Linked DNA regions of Homo sapiens. The protein of the gene in region 2 purifies or fractionates together with the protein of the main gene of each other region. This does not show direct contact. Each region holds a gene or a part of one and is shown on either strand. Other genes may lie near its edges.

Evidence for each region.
Region 1: the proteins of CEP295 (region 2) and KATNAL2 purify together in Homo sapiens (tandem affinity purification; one large-scale study listed by IntAct). This does not show direct contact.

What each region holds. Positions count from the first base shown.
Region 1 is NC_000018.10:47,057,102-47,060,601, forward strand, and holds part of KATNAL2 (katanin p60 ATPase-containing subunit A-like 2), read left to right. Parts: intron 1-1,133; coding exon 1,134-1,251; intron 1,252-2,454; coding exon 2,455-2,553; intron 2,554-3,500.
Region 2 is NC_000011.10:93,668,182-93,671,681, forward strand, and holds part of CEP295 (centrosomal protein of 295 kDa), read left to right. Parts: intron 1-626; coding exon 627-751; intron 752-1,495; coding exon 1,496-1,589; intron 1,590-3,500. UniProt on the Homo sapiens protein: Centriole-enriched microtubule-binding protein involved in centriole biogenesis.

The DNA of each region.
Region 1 (3,500 bases), on a different chromosome or scaffold from region 2:
ATGTGTGGTCTTGCTGGCCAAATAGTTGTGCATTTATATTAGACATGAACATTTATTATCCCCATAAAGAAAGGAAGTTGAAATAGCAGCTCTCTGAGATCACTCTGAACATGGGGAGACTTGCTTCTAACGAACCTTCTGCAAATGCATCTCACATATGGGGACAAAAGTGCTAAGAGAACTAAGCAACAATGTGGGAGTTCATGTTCTGCCCCCACAAGCTAGTCCTGTCTCTCTCTGGATGGCATCTTCTACAGAAAAATATGGATATTCCAATACTGAATTTTATATCTAATTATGAGGATGTAGTGAAAAAAGTGATTTGATCTTTCTATGGATATATAACATATATACAGTCATACCACATATATAACTATGTATACAGTAAATGTATATACTCTTGTAACCACAGTTACAGCCACCGGCAAGCTACCTTTGCCCCTTCTCAGTCAAATTCTCCCCATCTCCATCAGAGTTAGCTACTCTTCTGACTTCCAGCCCCATCAGTTTGTTTTGTCTGAAGTAAACAATTGTTGATGAAAATTTGTTTGGCAAATATGATTGGTCTGGGACAACATTGATGAAGGGAAGTTTGTTTTCCTTCTGCAATCCCCTTTTGATGTTTATTACTCATAACATGCTGAGAGGTATTTTAAGTAGGCAGGGTATATCCAGGACACTGGATTAAAACCATGGGGCCAATCCCTGGATTTCCTACTGTTTCTTAGTTTGAATGGGAGGACTCCTTTCTCTCTCACACCTTTCTCCTGGTCTAATGCTCCTTTTAAGGAAGGTGGAAGGAACAATGGAAGAATGCTTGTAAAGTAATGTATTCTTAAGAACTAAAGCTATTTGCAGAAGGGCCGAAGCTATGTGGTGTGAAAGGGAAATGAAGAGGGTGAGTTGGGGGGCTCGAGGAGGCAATCTTAGAAGAACCCAGTGAGTAGCCTGGAGGGTGTTAGGGCCAGGATGGACCTGGTGGGTGGATCACATAGGTGGAAGGGCCCTATAGTTGCCACCTGCATATCTTTCAATAGCTTTCTTAAATGTGCTATTCTTAAGAATAGTTGTTTAACTACCTCAAATTAAGTGGCTAGAATAATTTCTTCCAAGGTCTTTGTTCCCTCCCTTAGGATGATGAACGACAGTTGTCAAAATCTTCCCAAGATCAATCAGCAGAGGCCCCGGTCCAAAACCACAGCGGGGAAGACAGGGGACACCAAATCGCTCAATAAGGAGCATCCTAATCAGGTCAGGATGGCTTGGCTTGACTTTGTGAACAGCACACTTGGCTGAAAAATAGCCCTATGAAAAAGGTCACATTTATTTATTTTTTGAGGACCTACGCTTTTAAAATTGCTGTGTGATCTAATTGAATTTTAGGTTTTCTTCCAGTACACTGGACTAAAACCATGGACATATCCCTAGATTTCCTAATGTTTCTTAACTTGAGTGGGAGGACTTTTTTCTCCTCCAAGTTTTTCCCCTGGTCTGGGTGCTGGGTGATTGGCCAGGGTGGGGCCAGGGCCCAGTCAGAGCGGGAAGGCCTGGTTGCCTTGATCCTCCCATCTGAGGTAACTATTACCTGAGGTAACTGAGCTAACCAAGATGGCAGGTCTTCCCATCCCAGAGCACATTGCTAGGTTCCTAAGTGTAGGCCAGGCATAGCCTACACTACATTTCAGGTATGGCTGGGTCTCAAGGTCTCCTGTTGGGCTCCTCCAAATCGCACATGGTCAGCCCTCACCCCAGACCTTCATGCTGGACTTCCTGGGGGCCAAGAAGGGCAGCAAGGAGAGAATCCAGCAGGTGAGAGAAGTCAATGGCTCCTGACTCAGGAGGCTCATGTCCAGAACCTTCTTAGTTAGGACTAAACATCCCAGGTTTCAAAGGAAAGAGGACCAATGGAAACTGAGAAAAGGAATTAAAAAAATTAATGTCAAATAACGGAAAGGTATAATCACAATATCCGATTGGTCAAAAGGATTCTCTCCCCCTCAAGGAGGTCCTACGGTTCTGGCCGCTGCAGCCTGACTCATGTGGAAGAGAGGTGAAGGTGGGGCAGGATGAGTCCCATGGGAGGCTAGTTGACTCTGCCATATCTCCAAACTCAGCCACTCCTGGCCAAAAACACCCCTGATCACAGGAGAAAAGACGAGCCAGCGAATGGGGATGGGTTGAGGCACAACTGTTTGAAGCACATTGGAAAAGCTGCTTGGGGCCCATGGGGCCTGGCATCTTCTCAGTCTTCCAGGGACAACTCTTTCCACATAGTGCAGGCAGACAGCTACTTCATCTTCCTGGGTCTGCACAAATGTGGCTAAGCTACATGTGCATGTCGCGTTCACAGAATTGCTATCCAGCATCGGACTTTGCTTGATGGAGTAGGCAGGTACATCCAGCAACTCTCCATGGCTGCTCACAGCCGATGTGTCCTTGTCTCTCTTTCTTCAGGAGGTAGTTGATAACACTCGCCTGGAAAGTGCCAACTTCGGCCTACATATATCAAGAATCCGTAAAGACAGTGGAGAGGAAAATGCCCACCCACGAAGAGTAAGTGAAACTCATGAACCTAACACTGAAAGTGGTAATTTCTTTTTCCTTTTAAACATGAAAACAAAAAACATTATTTTTGTCAAACAGGAAAGTTAAGATGTGATTTTTGAAGGTTGGCTGTGAGGTAAATGGAGAAGAGCGTCAGAAAATGGGTTCTTCTTTGGAATCTCCTTTCTGAATGAATGGGCTGGCATGAACTGCCCCATCTCTAAGGAACTCAGTTTCCACATTTGTAAATTGAGGGGCTTGGAAGAGATTGTCTCTAGTGTTCCCATCAGCTTAAAAATTCTGTAATAACAATGACAAACATTGGCATGATCATCCTGCATCGTTCTCATCATTTTTTTTTTTTTTTAAGAGACAGGGTCTTGCTCTGTCACCCAGGCTGGAGTATAATGGTGCAATCATGGCTCACTGCAGCCTCAAACTCCTGGGCTCAAAGAATCCTCTTGCCTCAGCTTCCCAAGTAGCTAGGACTACAGGCATGCACCACAACATCCAGCTAATTTTTTTCATTTTTCTAGAGATGGGGTCTCACTATGTTGCCCAGGCTGGTTTCAAACTTCTAGCCTCAAGCAATCCTCCTGTCTGGGCTTCCCAAAGCGCTAGGACATCTGCGTTATTTAGTGAGTTGGAAACGCATACTCATTCTGCTCTGTCCTGTCAGTGGCATTTGATTAGTGGTGTCACCTTTCTCCTTGGAGGGATGGCTCCTGGTCTAAATGTAATTTCATGTGGACCATGAAACATCAGTTGATACAGGGTTGATTTTGTCCTTGATAGATATTTTTACCTTTTTCATAATGAATCTCATGTCTAGATTTCTAAATAATAATGTCTTAAGCAGAAAAGACCCAGATTGGGTGGATGTAGTCAAAAGGTAGATTAAAACATGTAATTTGGAAATGAATTGCACCATATTGCTCTTGGTCATACTCTCCAAG
Region 2 (3,500 bases):
GAAAGTCACAGTAAGTCTGCCCCATTATTTTGATTTATTGTGATTTATGATGTGGAAATACTACAGTCCCAGAATCAGTCACATACAGTAAACAAGCTAGTTACAAAGAAGGTAAATCTTTGATAACAACTAGTGAGAAAGAAAATATCTTAAGACTGTGGCAATCTGTTTCATGGTCCTTGGTTTTAGTCTGTGTTTTTAGTAATAGCCGTAAGTTCTGACTCAGGTTTTTGTGGTTTTATGCATGCCACATTAAGTTTGTGCCTAATGCAATGTTTCCCAAACCTCTGTTATTTGAATACCATGTTCACAATTTTTGCCCTGACTGGGAAACTACCCATATCACTATATATTTTACGTACTTTAACCATGTCCTAAGTAGTTCGATATCCTATTTATATTTTTGTAATAATGTTAATTGATTGCATTAACTTTACATTAAAATGTTTGTGTTTGTCCCCCCTAATATGGCATATCATCAGTGGTACTGTTGTCATGCTCTGGGAAACACTGCTATAGTATGTAGAAAGAAGATGACAAAATTGATAAATCACTTCTGATATCATATGAGACACATTTCTATTATTCTTGTTTAACATGACATTTTAAGTAATATATATTTTTAGGAACCTGATTTGGATGCTTTGGCACAGCGGGCAGCAGAAAGGAAAAGAAAAGCAGATTTGAGGCATAAAGAAGCCTTGAAAGTACAGAAAAATCAAAAAGAAATATTACTGAAACAAAAAACCTGGTAAAGTAATAATTTTTACTATAATCTCAACTGAAACTAACATGGTTGAAAGTAGAGGATACATAGGATACTGTGTAAGCAAATATTAAATAAACATAGTAGCATATTCATTGCATTTGTTAAACTTGATTTAAAAATAATGTTGGGGACAGGGAATGATTTGCTTAGGTGAACATAGTAACTAATGAGCTTTCTTTTCTAGTTGTAGTTTGAGTTGAGTTTAGCAGCAGTTACTAAGTTTCTGAAAAAATATATGGCTACTTCAGAATGCATGTCAACCAATGTCTGTTTCCGATGTAAACATGAAATAAAAATTGATGTGATTAAGAACATTAAAAGAGGTTGTAGACTCTGGAAGTCATTAGTATTTTTTGCATGTTGTAAAAATTAAAGGGCCATTCACAGGAAACGTGAGTGAAGCAAAGTAAAAAATTAAGGGCCCTGTTACTAGTTAGCAACAGCCATTTTTAACAACATTTCTGTTTTTTTTTTTTTCACTCTAAAGAACATTATAAGTTTCTTGGGTTGGTCCCCACCATAGAGCTTTCTGTCTTTAGATAGGCCTCTCTCAATTTGTAAACATTTTCTTAACATATGTATAGACTCTTTACACATGTAAAGCTTACTGAGCCTGTGGAATCAGACTAGAGGATTTCTTGAGCCTATGACTTACATATTTTTAACCCTGTTGTACTATAATATTATCACTGAGAGATTAATTGATGACATCTCTTGTTTCTTAAGGCATATAAAAGCTCGAAAGGAAGCACTGCTTGTGGAAAAAGAGAGATCAGCCAAAATTACAAGTCTGCCACCTCCTCCTCCAACTCTTTTTGAGGTGAGTTTGAGTATTAAGAGGAACTAGGTCATAATTCTTCTTTACTATTATAATTCAGTGGAGGTCAGAATGACTATCACTTAAACTTAATTGTACAAGTTTTCTTGTACAATTAAAAACTTGTACAGGAGTATATCTGGAGTATGTTAAAATAATTCTAGATATCATTTCACCTGTAAATACTTTAGTATGTATCTCTGATGTATAAGGACTTTTTTCTTAGTATAATACTAATATTGTTTCCAATATTATTTAATACCCAGTATTTGTTCAGCCTTCCTCAATGATGTCAAAAAAATTTTGTTGTTTGGAAAACTATAATGGTTTTGGTTTTGAAAAATCTTTTAATAATTCTGCCTTTTGAAAAAATACCCTTTATTTATTTATTGGGGGAAAAAACTAAACTATTCGTCCATTAGGCTTTCCCACACTCTGAATTTGGCTTATTTTAAATGGTCAATATTTTACAGATAAGTTTCAGTTAAGTTAATAAATTTACATAAGATTATAAAGTATCCAGGTGTGATTTTAAAAAAGAAAAGAGGAAAAAAATATTATAAAATAATAAGGATCTATTTTTTATGGGAGTAAAATGTGTGCTTTTGTGATTTGAAGCTTATTTTTTTTAAAAAAATGTAATTAAAGCAGAAATTTTTTAAAATACTTGTTCTCCACATTAGCTTGTTATAGTTATTGAAATGGCTATTTGGATGATTGTCAAAATTACCTAGTTATTTTTATCTGAAGAATGAAGTAGAAGTAAACCCAGAAATACATAGTTGTACATACAAGTATATTCTGTATAAGCATAAGTACCAGATACTCACTTCTTAGGCCTTTCAGTTTGTCAGCCTTCCTGCTTGTACGTTGAGCCATCTACCATGTAACATTTGATCCAACAAAATTCAGACGGAAAAGTTGTATTTCAGTCACTCCTTCGGTACAAAGTGACATGATAAAAGCCAGGCAATGTATTATCCATGATGCCTTTTGATTATTTTTGTCTTAATTCTTAGTATTTATAACAAGCCAAAGTCAAAAATTTATAAAAAGTAAACAAAACTCTGTAAGTGCTTTGACAAGCATGAATTAATCAGTGGGCATGAACTATTTAGTTCTTTTTTTCTTTTGAGGCAGAGTCTTGCTCTGTCACCCAGGCTGGAGTGCAGTGGTGCAATCTTGGCTCACTGCAGCCTCTACCTCCTGGGTTCCAGCGATCCTCCCACCTCAGCCTCCTAGGTAGCTGGGATTATAGGCATCTGCCACCATGCCCCGCTAATTTTTCTGTTTTTAGTAGAGACGGGGTTTCACCATGTTGGCCAGGCTGGTCTCGAACTCCTGACCTCAGATGATCCACCCACCTCTGCCTCCCAAAGTGCTAGGATTACAGATGTGAGCCACTGCACCCAGCCTCGTTCCTTTTAGGAAAACAGGATATATTCCTTGTTTTTCCTCTCTGCCAGTTTTCAGAGTAAAGGGTTGGGGTAATAATCAATGCCATTGGTGGTAAATGGGTTTTTTTTTCCTTTCTCTTTTGTTACTATCACTGTTAACTTGTGGGGGTTTTTTACTCAATATTACATAGTCAATTATAGTCATTCTTTTTCTTCTCACTGATGTTCGTAATATCTGAAATTTGGTCAGCAGGAGACTTGAAGTTGTTTCTTGCGTCCCCGTGACTCCATGAGCATTTCCTTGCTCTGTGCCCCAGCAAATGACCTAGGCTTAATTTACTCTGTCCCGTATCTGGTATCTCCAAAGACCCCTGATTCTTTTTAGTGGAGAAGTGGTACTTATAAACTAAGATCTGGGTGATTATATTCTTGTTTCACTAAAAGGCATTATTTTAGAAAAATACATTACCCAAGCCAATAAAGGTGTTTGGGATAAGGCAGTGTTTCTGAATGTCTT